Linked DNA regions of Homo sapiens: all the other regions are linked to region 1. The links come from fine-mapping of genetic effects on gene expression. A gene starts in region 1. Each other region holds a variant in brackets. All regions are shown on one strand. Distances are from middle to middle.

What was found. PIP is the estimated chance that this variant, and not a neighbour inherited with it, causes the effect.
Region 2: its variant is the best candidate, but not a certain one, in a credible set for the expression of PIGC in esophagus mucosa (GTEx, PIP 0.84).
Region 3: its variant is the best candidate, but not a certain one, in a credible set for the expression of PIGC in whole blood (INTERVAL, PIP 0.89).

What each region holds. Positions count from the first base shown.
Region 1 is chr1:172,441,116-172,446,340 of GRCh38, reverse strand. PIGC (phosphatidylinositol glycan anchor biosynthesis class C) reads left to right here and starts at 2,272. Exons shown (of 2, transcript NM_153747.2): 1 at 2,272-2,353; 2 at 3,511-4,884. The coding sequence starts at 3,719. The coding sequence ends at 4,612. C1orf105 (chromosome 1 open reading frame 105) reads right to left here. Exons shown (of 7, transcript NM_139240.4): 2 at 1,183-1,268. RefSeq lists enhancers at 1,884-2,193, 1,917-2,440.
Region 2 is chr1:172,493,129-172,498,353 of GRCh38, reverse strand. No RefSeq gene overlaps it. Among named protein-coding and RNA genes, the nearest start is that of SUCO, 37 kb to the left of the region's middle. RefSeq lists enhancers at 387-887, 888-1,388. The variant C/T (reference allele first, on the strand shown) is at 2,401.
Region 3 is chr1:172,421,639-172,426,863 of GRCh38, reverse strand. All of the region lies in intron 1 of C1orf105 (chromosome 1 open reading frame 105), which reads right to left. It overlaps LOC102724528 (a long non-coding RNA gene), which reads left to right and starts at 3,508. Exons shown (of 3, transcript XR_001738294.3): 1 at 3,508-4,367. The variant G/T (reference allele first, on the strand shown) is at 3,122.

The sequences.
Region 1 (5,225 bases):
AATTAAAATATGCTAGACTGTCCTTACTCGTGCTGATCCATGCAGTGTTAACAACTCTTAATAAGCACTCTATCACTTAGTACTTTTGTTTCTTAAATAGGCCTTTGAGTTTATTGAACCTCTGATAATCTGCTTTCGTTATATTCAAAATTATGTAAAAATAACACAACTGAATAACGAGCACTTGAAAGCACTTGTGAATTTTGTTCTGAAAATACTAAAACCGTCTACCTATTTACTGAGAATGAGATTTTTTTTTAATGTACAGTAGACAAAGCAAAGGTACATGTTACTAAAGTGGGGATGTGGAGACAGTGATGGGAATTTGCTTATGAAGTCACTTATCCATGGGCAGGAGGGTACATGGTAGTTATCAACAGGAGGAGAAACTCTTTTTGGGGAGTCTGGCTTTTCTAACGAGCTGTTTCGAATGCCAAGGAGTCATTCCTTTTTAGTCTGTCGTGTGCCTTTGGAATGGCCTCTATGCCTGCCCTTTCTCTTTCTCTCTGCCCTCTTTCTGGTTTCTCTCATTCACCCCAACACTACCTCACACCTACCCTTCTGTCCATGTCCCCTTCCCAGAGTGGGGTTTATCACTACACTTAGGAACCATTTCATCAAAAATGGAGAAGGGACACGGTAACCCAATTATTTCAAGAGACAGTTGAAATGCTCCCTAGATATGTAATTCCTGCAATTTTGAAAAATAGATTTATGTGTCATATAGTAGTTTGTTTGGAAGGAGTAGGACTAACAGGAATGTAGGAGGGTGCCTCAAAGTTACATACAGAGTTACTATTCTATAAAGATGGGAACTTACTGTTCTAGACTTTTGATGGTAAAAATGTGAAAATTTCAGACTACAGCAGTGGAGAAAATGTGGGGTGAGAAAGAGGATGGAAGTGTTTTGAGAGACAGTGTCTAGGGGAAAAATTATCTTATACTGTTGAGTGGTAGTGGTGGAGAGGGAAAAATTTTGAGATCTCATCTCCTCTAGCCAGGCCTATACTCAGTGATCATTTTTTTCTGAGAAACCCGGATTATTTCTATTTTTAAAGCACTTGACTTGAGTTTCTCAATGGATCAAATGTGCCCTCTGATAATTGTCCCCATCCCTTAAGAAGAAATCATCTTCTGTGAGATGTTTCGTAAAACTTTTGCCCTCGGTGGCTGAGAGGTTACCTTCTGGGAAGGCTGAGCACTAATGGCTTGTTTACAAGGCTGGCCTCACTAAGCCAAGGAATCTTGTCAAATTTTGGAACAGAAGCCTAGAGGGAAATAGAGAACATTTTACAGAATATATCACACTTAAACATTGCTATCATTACGATGGCCAAAGTCAGCTAATAGCAGCCATATAGTGAACACTTTACAAACCATTTTTATATTTAACTCTTTAACCATCCTATAAAGTAGCCAAGTGCAAATAATGTCATCTCCATTTTACTGATGAAGAAATCAAAGCTCAGGTAGTGTGATTTGCCTTGAGTCACTGAGCTAGTAAATGGGTCATGTTTTCTGACTTTTATTTCCACTGTATCCTGTGTTTTACTACATCCCTTTGTTTCTTTATTACTTCCTTCTGTTTATATATCCTTTAATATTTCCATGAACTCAGTTTAATTAGCAATCTTGTCCTCACTTCTTTTAGGAGGTAAAGAGGAAAAAAACCAAGCTTTGAAGCTATAGACAACTGGATATTGATCTCTGTTCATCTACTTCCCAGGTGCCTGTCTTTGGACAAATACAACTTATCTGAGCCTTAGATTTGTCCTCTTTGAGGGGGGAGATGATATAATCAGTGTAAAGGTCAATGCACCAAAAAAGAGAGTTTCATGAGAGCAGCAATTTTTGTGTGTTTCATTCACGGCTGTATCATGAGCACCCCAAGCATGGCTTGTTACATGCAGGCATTCAATCAGTATCTGTGGAATGAACGCATGGATGCACGGGAAGTCCCAGCTGAGGGCCTGACTTAATAAAGGAGCGCAACAAAAGCGGCCATTATCTCTCACCTACTGGCCCAGCCTCTTTCCTTGTCCTCTCTTGCCTTACCCAGTCCTTCAGATGGCACATCCCATCTTTCAATAGGGGATTGCTGGGGATTTGCCTTCCTAGGCTCAGAGCATTCGGGTTTGGGCCAGTCTCCAGGAGAGGAGACCGGAGGTCCTTCGAGCAGCCAGGAGGGGGCAGCAGTCACGTCGCGATGGTTCCAGCCGGGGAAGGGTGCCCTCGCTAAGGAGATTGCGGCGGACCCGGAAGTGCTTGGCCACAGTCGCAGCCCCGGCGCCCCGAAGCGGGAAAAAGGCTGGGTGCCGCCGTCCCCCAGCTGCGCAACCCTAGGAACTCTCGGGTAGGTGGGTTCCGTGTAACGGTCAGTGTTTCCGGGGCTCCTTTTCCTCTGCTGCCTCCCGCAGACCCAAGGCTGAGTGAGGGGCGGCGGCGGAAGTGGGAGGCCCACCCAAAAAGCCAAATGGGGTGCCAGAAGAGTGAAGGCGCACCCTGGGGTCACCCTACCCTACCCCGTCCCCTCCCAGCCCCACTCTGCGGGCGGGCGCTGCCCTTTTGGGCGTCGCAGACCCTCCAACCCCGGCGGCGGCCTTAAGATTCCCGGGCTGGGATCCCTGCTGCAGAGGGGGTAACGGTGTCTGGCTTGCCAAGCAATATTTGTTGTGGTCTATCATGGAAGAAATAAAGTCGGGCAATATGAATTTTTTTTTTCTCAAATTTGCCGGATGGCTGTGGTGTTTCTGACTCTTAGTTTTCTCATTGTGAAAAAGGAATGATTATCTTCTTCGATCCTCTCAAGAGTTTCCTTGTTTTGAGTAGATTGATAGCTCTTTAAAGGATGCTAAGCTCAGCTAATGGAAGAAGAGTCTAGTTTCTTTGAGGCTTTGATTTTGGTTAAACTATAGAGCTCATACCTTTCTGTATGGTGCAGCTTACTATTGTCTTTGGATTGGTAACTTAAAAAATACAAATAACATGCCTTTGAGAACCAATAAAAACTATGGATATTATCCCTATAAATTTACACAAATCCAGATATAAGCATGCAATGTGATATACCTAAGGGATATGTGAACCACTGAGTTAAGAACTGCTTTAGAGGGAGATACAATGTGAGACACAGGCTTTGGGATAAGACTTTGGTTTGAATCCTGGCTCTGCTCTGTTACCTTAGGGCAAAGTTACTTAAGCATCTTGAATCTCAGCTTTTTTACCAAAGCAGGACTAATACTAACTTACAAGGTGGTGAGGATTAAGTGAAAGAAGATACATAAGGCACTTAGCACATAGTAGGTACTCAATAAGCGATAGCTAACAGATGTCTATTATTATTCAAGGAATTATAATTTTCAAATCTGAAATGCAGTTTTAATGTCCCATAAGGTGACTACCACATACATTTTTCTCAGACTTTTAGTAAACTGAGTTGATTTGACTTTATCTCAGTACTACTCTTGACCTTTCACAACTTTCGTAGGTTCACAGTCTCTCTTTTTCTAGGAACTTGGCTGTGTTGTCCTGCCTCAGAGACAAATTCATCTATTGTAGGCCTAGCCCCTGCCTTTGAAAACAAGGAAAGGTTGGTAGAACATCAACACAGCATGGAATTTCCAGGGAGGTCTCATTTCAAAACTTCATAAAGAACAAGAACCACCTGGACTTCTGTGAGGGCGATGATTAAACTGGCCTGAGTTTGAATGAAAGGATAATGTATGCTCAACCTGTGACTAACACCAAGGAGGTCAAGTGGCAGAAGGTCTTGTATGAGCGACAGCCCTTTCCTGATAACTATGTGGACCGGCGATTCCTGGAAGAGCTCCGGAAAAACATCCATGCTCGGAAATACCAATATTGGGCTGTGGTATTTGAGTCCAGTGTGGTGATCCAGCAGCTGTGCAGTGTTTGTGTTTTTGTGGTTATCTGGTGGTATATGGATGAGGGTCTTCTGGCCCCCCATTGGCTTTTAGGGACTGGTCTGGCTTCTTCACTGATTGGGTATGTTTTGTTTGATCTCATTGATGGAGGTGAAGGGCGGAAGAAGAGTGGGCAGACCCGGTGGGCTGACCTGAAGAGTGCCCTAGTCTTCATTACTTTCACTTATGGGTTTTCACCAGTGCTGAAGACCCTTACAGAGTCTGTCAGCACTGACACCATCTATGCCATGTCAGTCTTCATGCTGTTAGGCCATCTCATCTTTTTTGACTATGGTGCCAATGCTGCCATTGTATCCAGCACACTATCCTTGAACATGGCCATCTTTGCTTCTGTATGCTTGGCATCACGTCTTCCCCGGTCCCTGCATGCCTTCATCATGGTGACATTTGCCATTCAGATTTTTGCCCTGTGGCCCATGTTGCAGAAGAAACTAAAGGCATGTACTCCCCGGAGCTATGTGGGGGTCACACTGCTTTTTGCATTTTCAGCCGTGGGAGGCCTACTGTCCATTAGTGCTGTGGGAGCCGTACTCTTTGCCCTTCTGCTGATGTCTATCTCATGTCTGTGTCCATTCTACCTCATTCGCTTGCAGCTTTTTAAAGAAAACATTCATGGGCCTTGGGATGAAGCTGAAATCAAGGAAGACTTGTCCAGGTTCCTCAGTTAAATTAGGACATCCATTACATTATTAAAGCAAGCTGATAGATTAGCCTCCTAACTAGTATAGAACTTAAAGACAGAGTTCCATTCTGGAAGCAGCATGTCATTGTGGTAAGAGAATAGAGATCAAAACCAAAAAAAATGAACCAAAGGCTTGGGTGGTGAGGGTGCTTATCCTTTCTGTTATTTTGTAGATGAAAAAACTTTCTGGGGACCTCTTGAATTACATGCTGTAACATATGAAGTGATGTGGTTTCTATTAAAAAAATAACACATCCATCAAGTTGTCTCATGATTTTTCCATAAACAGGAGGCAGACAGAGGGGCATGAAGAGTGAAGTAAGTGTGTGTGTGTGTGTGTGTGTGTGTGTGTGTGTGTGTGTAAAGTCACTTCTTTCTACCCTTTTCAATGTGCTAATGCTCTTTTATTTATCTAGGGCTCAAATCTTAGAACACAGGGTGCTATGCTCAGTTTTGTTGCCCAAGATCACAGAATTGGTTACTTAACCTTGACTCAGAGTTTCTACCTTGTTCTTAGGGAAGCATATCACAACTAATTGCAAAGCAGAGTGTGATGTGTCACAATAAGCAGAATGCTAGGGGGAATTCAGAAGCTGGAG
Region 2 (5,225 bases), 52 kb before region 1:
AAAACATAGTATCCTGGGTCTCACCCCAGAGTTGGAGATTCAGTAGATCTGGGATGTAGCCTGAGAAGTTGCATTTATAACAAGTTCCTAAGGAAATGGGGAGGATGCTGCCAGGGGGGCACATTTTGAGAACCACTCATTTACACAAACTCAAGGGGTTCCCCAGCTTCTCTCTAGCCACCCAAAGTCACTGGTTTCTTGTTACTCTTTAATTGTTTTGTGCAGCAGAGCAGCACAGCAAATAACGCTGCCATTAGGAGAGCAGGCTCTGGGGCCAAACTACCGGGGTTTGAATCTTGGCCTTATTTTACAAGCTGTGTGATCCTGGCCAAATTATTTAACCTCTCTGTGCTCCAGATTCCTCACAAAAACACATATTGATATTTTTTGACTGCTTACTATGCACTAGGCATAGTTCCAATGTATTTACTATTAATTTTTTGATTCCTATAAGACTAAGAGGTAGGTGCTATTATCCCCAATTTACAGATGAACGAATTGAGGCACATCGAGGGATAATAATAGTAAACACTTTATTATTGTGTAGATTAAATGATATAATCCATGCTAAATTTTAATTTGAGCTTGTAAGAATGTTATTTACACTTACTACGGAAGCAAAGATTGGAAGGTCCTCTCCTTTCTTTTGAAAACTTTAAGGATTTTTCTAAGAGGATGAACCATTGTACTTCCATCTGAGTCCTATGGACAGGATCTAGCAATCACATCTCATATCCTCTCCCCCATTTAAGTTCTCCCACAAGAGAAGGGTTTCTCCCTTGCAGACTTTCTGTCTCCAGAGAGCTGCCACAGTTCTAAGGGCCCCAGGGCATGTGTGGGTGGAGCAGTGGGAATTGGGGAGGCATCCAGGAGGAAGTCTGCTTGAAAGCAATCGTGTGTGTTTGCCTGGTTAAGCAGGGAGTCCTGTATGAGACCTGACAGGGGCAGCTCACAAGAATGCAGGCAGCTTGCAAGCTCACTAGACCAAAAGAGGAAAGAAGGAGAGGAGAGAAAATGCCCGGAGCCCCAGAGCTGCGCCAGCACATTCCAGCATGGTTGACACTTGCTGATGGCCTTTGTTTTTCTAGCAGAGCTAGCGAGTAGGGGATAGATACCCGGGCATTGCTTTTTCTGACCTTGACACATTTTAAGCTTTCTTTTCCAGATCAGGACAGAAGGCTTTCTAAAGTAAACCTAGGTTGAATGTGAATACTAACTGGTATTTAATCACCATCATTAAATACCATCAGAGGAGTGAAAAACTGCTGTTTAAATCTTTAGAACTTTCTAGCTATAAGTAAAACATTCTGATATGCAGAGAGTCATCATTCAATTCTAACCAGTTATGCTGGCTGCTGAACCTCCTGTCTGTTCCTACACCCTGCCATGTCCTGGGATTAACTAATATCTTCCATGCCCTTGGGATGTCACCTCCCCCAGATGGTTCTTTGATTCCCTTTCCCAACCTTATCTCTCACCGGGGCTGGATTAGGTGCTGATCCCAGATGCTCTAATAGCCCCTGTTCTTACCATATTATTTCATGATGGCTTGTTTAGTTGTCTGCTTCTTCTATTCAACAAGAAGTTGTAAGCTTCTTATTCATTTGATTTCCCAATGCCAAGCACAGTGCCAGGCAGATAATAGGCAACCACTAAATCTCCACTGATAACTATTTTGTGCATACTGTTCTGTAGCAGGACAAGCCACAGACAAAACTCCTCAGACACCAAGTTGAAGAAGGAAGGGGTTTATTTGGCTGGGGGCATCGACAAGACTCCTGTCTCAAGAGCTGAGCTCCCTGAGTGAGCAATTCCTGTCCCTTTTAAGGGCTCACAACTCTAAGGGGGTGCGTGTGAGAGGGTGGTGATCGATTGAGCAAGGAGGGGGTATGTGACTGGGGGCTGCATGCACCAGTAATTAGATCAGAACAAAACAGGATAGGGATTTTCACAGTGCTTTTCTGTACAATGTCTGTAATCTATAGATAACATAACCGATTAGGTCAGGGGTCAATCTTTAACTACCAGGCCCAGGGTGTGGCGCCGGGCTGTCTGCTTGTGGATTTCATTTGTGTCTTTTAGTTTTTACTTTTTCTTTCTCTGGAGGCAGAAATTGGGCATAAGACAATATGAGGGGTGGTCTCCTCCCTTACTCCCACCCAGCCTTTGCTATCCTGCTAAGTTCTGTGGACCCTCCATTCCTCAAAGACCTGATTCCCACACTCACAGAGAACAGTAAAAGCAGAAACTGTGAGGCATTCTGCTTAGTTAGTGGTAAAACCTGGGGTGACAAATGTTTGACATGTTCCAGCTTAAACTAGGGGTAAATGGATTGAGTGAACAAATGGGAGGTGACTGCCCAGTGTGAATTGGTCCAGAGTGATGGATAGATGAGAGGTG[C/T]GTCTAAGCAGAGACAGAAGAGCACAGGCTTACACAGAAGGCCTCAATAATCCACTTGATCCCTTTCTAGATACCTAGTTCCTCCCATGGTAACAATTCTGATGACAGAGCAGATGCTCTGGAAGACCAGCTTTCCAGCAAGCCTTTACCATACTGATGAGGGCATTAGCAATGCCATAGACTGGCTAAGCCTGGTGTTATAGGACTCGCCACCTCCAAGGGGTGAGTTATATTCTGGCCTAAATCTGAGCCTTAAAGATGTGGCTTGGATTCTGCTGGCAGACATACTTCTCTGTACCCACTGCTCAGTCCTCATCATTGCAGACTTTTCTTCTCTCATCAGTTAGTCCCAAATTATATCCTTGGTCATAAGGGAACCAGGAGGAAAAAGTATATGGGTGCAACTTGTTAATGAAGAACCAAATTATGTAAAATATTTTAAAGGGGTTTATTCTGAGTCAAAATGAGTGATGACTGCCCAGGGAGAAACACAAAGCCAAGAAGCCTTGAGTAAGTGGTCCCAAGGCAGTCAGATTACATTTTGGTTTTATATATTTCAGGGAGGCAGGAGTTAAAGGAAAGACATACATCAATACGTGGAAGAGATACATTAGTTCCATCTGAAAAGGCAAGATATCTTGAAGTGGGAAGGGGGGTGCTTATAGGTTACAGGTGAATTTAGAGATGCTTTAATTTATAATTGGTCAAAGGAGTAAGGTTCCATCTACAACTTGAAGTCAATAAAAAGGAATGTGTTAAGTTAAGATTAGGAAGCTCTGTAGCCAGATTGATAGTCTGTAGGCATGACTTAACCCTTGTCTTCTATGACCTTAGTCTTGTGTATACTTTGGTATCTTATTGCCAGCTTGTTTTGTTAGCCTTATGATCTCTGTTTTAACAGTAATGCTGGTCAGTTGTGCCTAAACTCCAAAAGGGAGGGAGCATAACAAGGTAGGTCCAACCTTTCTTGCTGTCATGGACAGGAACTAAGTTTTTAAGATTTCTCTGGGGTCCCCATGGCCAAGAGAGGGTTCAGTTGGTGGAGAACTTAGGATTTTAAGTTTACAAACTGGACGGATACCTCAAAAGGCATCTATTTATAGATCAGTAGGATCCCTTTTTGGTAGGAGACAGGCAATGAAGATAATGTTCAGGGTCTGGAAGGCCTATTAGTTTGCCCTGGGTAGGATACAGTTGGGGCTCAGAAAACAATACCCCAGAATGAAGGCCTCAGAAACAGCCTCAGGAGCCAAAGGTTTTCTTTGACCTGCTGCTGCCCTCTTGTCTCCCAGCCTGCTTTCTCCCCTGAGACTAATCATAGAAACCAGAATCCCTCTTCACCAAGGTGGGTCAGGGACACCAGAGGGCTTTTTCCCTAAAGCTAGCCATAAAAACTAAAAATATTACTCTAACTTTTCCTCTTTCTGCGTAAAAACTGTCCATAAAGAAATTGTCTGACTTACCTTGTTTGACTGTAGGTCATAAGACCCCCGATTGCAGAGAGGGCTCTGCCCCAAACTCAGAAGGAAGGAGTGCATGCTCAGAGGCTAAGAAGAATCAGGCAGAGAGGCCTTGCTGGTTTTCCCCACTCAGTCTGCTAGCATTAGATCATACCTATTTTGTCCAATCATATTTCTACACAGCTCTCCATACTTTGTTGAACTAAGCATAAAAATGAACCATTTCCCCTTTATCTTTCAGTCTTCAGTCTGAAGGCTCCTGAGTATACATGTTAAATAAGTTTACCTGCCTTTTCTCCAATTAATCTGCCTTTTGTGAGTTGATTTTTTTAGTGAATCTCTGGCCCCTACAGTACCTATGCGTACACCTGGTGCAGAGGACCCCATGATTTTAGTGCTGTCCTTGGTGACTGATTGCTGTCTGTCCATAGTTCAACATGTTTCAGATTCTGCCTTTGTTGCTTTTGTGTGCACGTAGTCTTCTTAACATGAATATAGGCTTTTGGTGCTTCCTTTGTATTTTAGCACAGTTATAGGAACTTGGGGTGAAAGGAGGAGGAGAGACAATGCTTATTGAAATTATATAAAAATCAAGAAAGGCATTGGGGACAGAGCTTCAGTCCCGTCTATTGCCTTTCCAATCTAAGACTAAATTTAGTGTTCTGATTTTACTGACTTTATAAACTTCTAAATGAACGTTTGTGCAAAACCTGTATGGTACAGAAACAGGCTACAACAAAAACATGAGTTGTAATCTATTATGAAAGCTCATACATTTTTCCTGAGGATGCTAGGAAGCTCAAGTGTCCACCATCAGGGAGAATCCCCTCTTACCCCCATGTCCCAAACACTCTAAGCCTACAAAGTTAAGCCAGACCAGAGCTACACCCTTATTTTGGAATAAAATTTGGCTCTACCCAAGCATCACCCTTCAGTGAGCAATGGAGGCCAGATTCAGCAAGACAGTACAAGGAAATCTCATCCCTGGGACAAGTTCTTTTTTTTCCCACAAACATTAAAACTAGCTGAGAGATCTGGCATAGCAAAGTGGGTGATCTTTCTAGCATTCAAGAAGAAATAACTAAAGGAAGATAGATTGGTTGTCTTCAAATATTTGAAAATTTGTTGTTACTGGAGGGGAGTGGCTGGCTCTGTATTATTACTACAGGGGAGAAGTAGAAGAGTGGAAGCATAAAGAGGTTGATTTCACCTAGGCATGAGAAACAACTTTCTTTATTTTATTTATTTATTTATTTATTTGAGATGGAGTTTTGTTCTTGTCACCCAGGCTAGAGTGCAATGGTGCAATCTCAGCTCATTGCAACCTCCACCTCCCAGGTTCAAGCAATTCTCCTGCCTCAGCCT
Region 3 (5,225 bases), 19 kb after region 1:
AGACAGGTATATATGCATGGGCATGATGACAATGATTGACCATTCAATTTAAGTTGGGTAAGGAGAGTGAACCTCAAGAAGGGTGAAGGACAGAGGGCTGAGGGACAGCATAAAGGTGAATAGATTGGAGATCCAAGAGATTAAAACAATAGAAGTAGGCTAGAAAGATAGGATATAGAGATGAGAGAGTGGGGAAAGACAAGGTTTTAATTTTGGAAATGAGTAGCTGAGATAGAGTGGAGAGCAAGATCATTGCAAGATCTCACTACTTAGCACTCAAGTAGAAGAAAAAAAAAAAGACCATTGAAAGAGTGAAGTCAAGAAAATGAGAGGCAGGGTGAGGGTGGATTACCAAGAAGCGTATGAAAATCCCCAAGAATTAAAACAGGAGTATCACTGGAGGGAGTGACATTGAAACAGGAGCTAAAATCATCAAGAAATAAGGGAGAATGAATTGGGCATTGGTAGTTAAAAGCAACACATAGGGTCATGTAGATAGTGCTGTAATCTGATGCCATGAGGTTCAAAGCTGGGGGTTTTAGCGAGGAGGAAAGAAGAATGGTCTGAAAACAAAACAAAAAATGAGGATAACTACCCCACTTCAGGCTCAGCAGTGTGAGGGCTGTGGGAGACAAGCTGCCACCTTTGGAAAAGGATGCAGGGGAGGCAGTCCTTTCAGAGAAACTCTGGTTTGTTAGAGTAAGATTGTGAAGTGCATATCCAGAGAATAGGTTGAAGATACAGGGAATTTTGTTGATCATGGGCAGTGAATTATAGAGGAGACAGTGGAAGGGTTACAGAAATTTGGGAGAGATGGGAAGACAGAATAGGAACATACAGAACTGCATGGAAATTAGCGTGGAGAGTGGCCTAGAATCCAGGGGTTCTTGGATGATTGACACAGGCTGGGATAAAAGGTTAATGACATAAGTTCCAGTAAGTGTAAGGCAGATAGTAGTAGTGAGCGTGTGAGTGGGTGGGTAGGGAGGGGTGAATTTTGGGGGCTTCCTCTTCACCTTGAAGGAGATGTGTTCTCAGAATGTAGGCCTTTTCACATCCTCATGAGCATATTATTGCTCACTAATGGGATTAATGTGCTAGTTCTCTGGGTTATGTGCATTTTGACAAGGACCTTTTGGGGATAATATCACAAACCTCCTCAGAACAGTGCAAACTTCTAATAGCAAGCAGTGTCATTGTAGTGCTCTAAAAATTTTGATTTTGGGCAAAGTGATCAGAGCTTAGGTGAGAGCCAGGGTTTGACCAACATTCTGTGGAAGGTTGGGCCTGATAAGGCATACTCCTTTGGCCACCAAGAGGGCTCAGCTGCAGGGGAGAGGCAGATTAGAAACAGCTGAAGGCTTGTTGGGCCTGCTAGCTTAGACCACGCCTATACTTTTTGCTTTTTTTTCCTTTCGTAACTCACAGATGCCATCAATGTTGGTGTAACTTGACGAACAATAACCATCATCAAAAAATTAAAACATCATTTTCCTCCAGGTATATTACTGTGATTAATGAGATAATTCCCCAGAGGTGGGGTAGTCAGGAAGCAGCCATTTCCCAATTGGCTGGCATGTGCTCAGCACCACAAGTCTGGCAACACTATTTGGTGCTGCCTCCTTATGCCCATCAGGTAATGCTGGGGTAAAAGTACCCAAGGAAAGGGCTTAGAAAGACAAATGGCCTTTTCTGCCACCAAATGGAACCAACTGGCATTGAGAATCAAGTAACATCCAGTATGATCCTAAGGTCTTCTGTCCTAAACAGACTAGCTCTGTAATTCTTTGACCATAATACTACTAGGATGATGGAACAAATTGATTTTACCAATGCTGAGGTCCCTCAGGCTCCCACGAAACCTGGCTCAAGAGGAGCTGCTTCTACTTTACAAGCTCTGTTGGCTCACTGCTTGCCACTCCAGGCTGGCCCTGTGGCCTTGTGCTGGGCCCGAGTGACATTTGAACTCTGGTCAGTGAGAACACTGTGGGCCTCACACTCTTTTTAAGTTGCAAAATAAATAGATCTTTAAGACATTGAGCAGATTTTGTGGATGTAGCTGAGAATATTTTTGTCATTAAAAGAAAAAAAAAGAGGCAGAAGGAATCATCTCTTTGACTCTAACTTGCTCTCCATTGCCTTCTGAATGTACCCTCAGAGATAAGAACAAGGAGGCCGGGCACGGTGGCTCACACCTGTAAACCCAACACTTTGGGAGACTGAGGTGGGCAGATCACTTGAGGTCAGGAGTTTAAGACCAGCCTGGCCAACATTGTGAAACCCCATCTCTACTAAAAATACAAAAATTAGCCGGGTGTGGTGGCAGGCACCTGTAGTCCCAGCTACTCTGGAGGCTGAGGCATGAGAATCTCTCGAACCCGGGAGGCAGAGGTGGCAGTGAGCCGGGATCGTGCCACTGCACTCCAGCCTGGGTGACAGAGCAAGACTCCATCTCAAAAAACAAAATAAAAAAGAGAAGGGAATATAACCCCTAAAAGCCTGAGAGGCTAATTTTTTGATAATGTTATGTGGAACATCAAAATACTTTGTTAGTAGCTGTTTTGAGAGGCAGAACCCACATTAGTGACTTCTTGGTTACTGCCTTGCAGATCCTTAAGTCTCTTTGGTCTTCTGCGGCTTGCTTAGGCTTTCTTTATTATCTACCCATGGCTCATGTTCATGAGGTTCATTGAAGATGTGAACTGGGGCTGAAAATTGGGATGTGACATAATGTATGATAAAACTTGATTTGATTAAAAACCGAGGATGGGAGTAGGAGTTTATAGTGTTGACTCATCCAATAGCCTGCCACCTAGTCTGATCTTAATATGTTGACAGTATTTAGATTCAATAGTAACTTGTAGCATCAAAAACAATAACAAAAATATATAAAGATGGTCCCTGACATACAATGGTTCAACTTGGAATTATTCTTTTGTCCCCTCTATATATTTTCAAACAGCCTGGCTTCAAGCTCACTAATTCTTTCTTCTGCTTGATCAATTCTGCTAACAGCCTCTGATGGATGCATCCTTCAGTATGTCAATGGCATTTTTCAACTCCAGAATTTCTGCTTGATTCTTTTTAATTATTTCAATTTCTTTGTTAAATTTATTTGATA[G/T]AATTCTGAATTCTCCCTCTCTGTGTTATCTTGAATTTTTTTGAATTTCCTCAAAACAGCTATTTTGAATTCCTTGTCTGAAAGGTCACTATCTCTGTCTCTTCAGTATTGGTCACTGATGTCTTATTTAGTTTGTTTGGTAAGGGCATGTTTTCCTGGATGGTCCTGTGCTTGTGGATGCTTGTTAGTGTCTGGTCTGGGCTTGTTTGTACCTGTCCTTCTTCGGAATGTTTTCCAGGTATTTGAAGGGACTTGGGTGTTATGATCTAAGTTTTTGGCCACTGCAGCCATATCAGCATTAAGGGGTACCCCAAGCCCAGTAACGCTGTGGCTCTTGCAGACTCATAGAGGTACCACCTTGGTGGTCCTAGATAATATCCAGAATAATTCTCTGGATTACCAGGCAGAGACTCTTGTTCTCTTCCTTTACTTTTTCCCAAAGAAACAGAGTCTCTCTTCCTGTGCTGAGTTGACTGGAGCTAAGGGAGGGGTGATATAAGCACTCCTGTGGCCACCACTACTGGGACTGCCCTGGGTCAGACCTGAAGCCAGCATAGCACTGGGTCTTGCCCAAGGCCCACTGTAACTATTACGTGGCTACCATCTATGTTCGCTCAAGGCTCTAGGGCGCTACAATCAGCAGGTGGTAAAACCAGCAAGGCTGTGTCCTTTCCTTCAGGGAATCAAGTTCCCCTGGGCCCTGGGTGAGTCCAGAGACGCTGTCTGGGAGTCAGGGCCTGGAGTTGGAAACTTTAGAAATCTACCTGGTTTTGTATTCTACTGTGGCTGACCTGGCACCCGAACCACTGAAGTCCTTCCCACCCTTTCCTGCTCTTCCCCAGGCAAAGGAGTTTCTTCTCATGTCCAACACCACCACAGGCCCATGAGGAGTACTGCTGGGATACTGCCAATGTTCACTTAAGGCCCAAGGGCTCTTCTGCCAGCATGTGTTGGATGCTGCCAGGAAAGTGACTTACCCTTCAGGGCAGTGGGCTCCTCTCTGGCCTAGAATAGGTCCAGAGATGCCATCCAAGAGCCAAGGACTGGAATCAGGGACCCAAAGAGCTGGCTTGGTGCTCTTTCCCACTGTGGCTAAGCTGGTACCTAAGCTCAAGACGGAGTCCCCTTTATTCTTCCCTCTGTTCTTCTCAAGCAGAAGTGGTCTCTCCTCGTAGCCACCAGACCTGTGAATGTGCTGGGTCACATCTGAAGCCAGTGCATTTCGGAGTTTCAGCTGAGGCCCACGGTATGTAGTACTTGGCTACTGCTACTGATTTTTCAGGGTCCAAAGGCTCTTTATTCAGCATGTGATGAAATCTGCCAAGACTGGGTCCTTCCCTTCAAGGCAGTTCCCTTTTGGCCCAGGGTATATCTAGAAATGTCATCCAAGAGCTAGGGCCTGCAATGAGTGCCTCAGGATTTTGCCCAGTACCCTATCCTACTCTGGCTGAACTGGTATCCAAGTTGCAAGACAAAGTCCTTTTCACTCTTCCCTCTTCTCTCCTCAAGCAAAGGAAGGAGTCCCTTTTGGAGCCATAAGCTGTGTTGCCTGGGGTTGGGGGAGGGGTGCTGTAAGCACTTACTTAGCCATCCTGGCTGGTGTCTTACTAGATCGTGCGCTCCCCAGTCCACTGGCTCAGAGCCCAGCACAGCACTAGGACTTGCCTGGGTATTGCAGTTGTTGTGGCCCAGACAGGCTTTCAAGTTTATTTAGGACCTCAGAGCACTTTAGCCCATGGTGGTGGAGGTAGTCAAAACTCAGTTTCTGAAACCTGGGATGGGCAATTCTCCTCTGGCTAAGGGTGGTCTAAATGGTCCCTCCATTGGCAACAGCTAAGTTCTGCCCCGTATTGGCAGCACTGAATTCTAGAGTCCCACAATCGCTGTGCCCTCCCTCCAAGTGCACAGATTCTCTCTCCACACTATGTGGCTGCTGCCAGGGGATGGGGGAGGGGTGGTGTCAGCAATTCAAGATTGTCTTTCTTATCTTCCTCAGTGCTTCTTTCAACAATACGAAGTTAAAACCAGGTACTGTGATCACTTTGTGATCACTGATTTTTGGTTCTTATGAAGGTGCTTTTTTGTGTAGATAGTTGTTAAATTT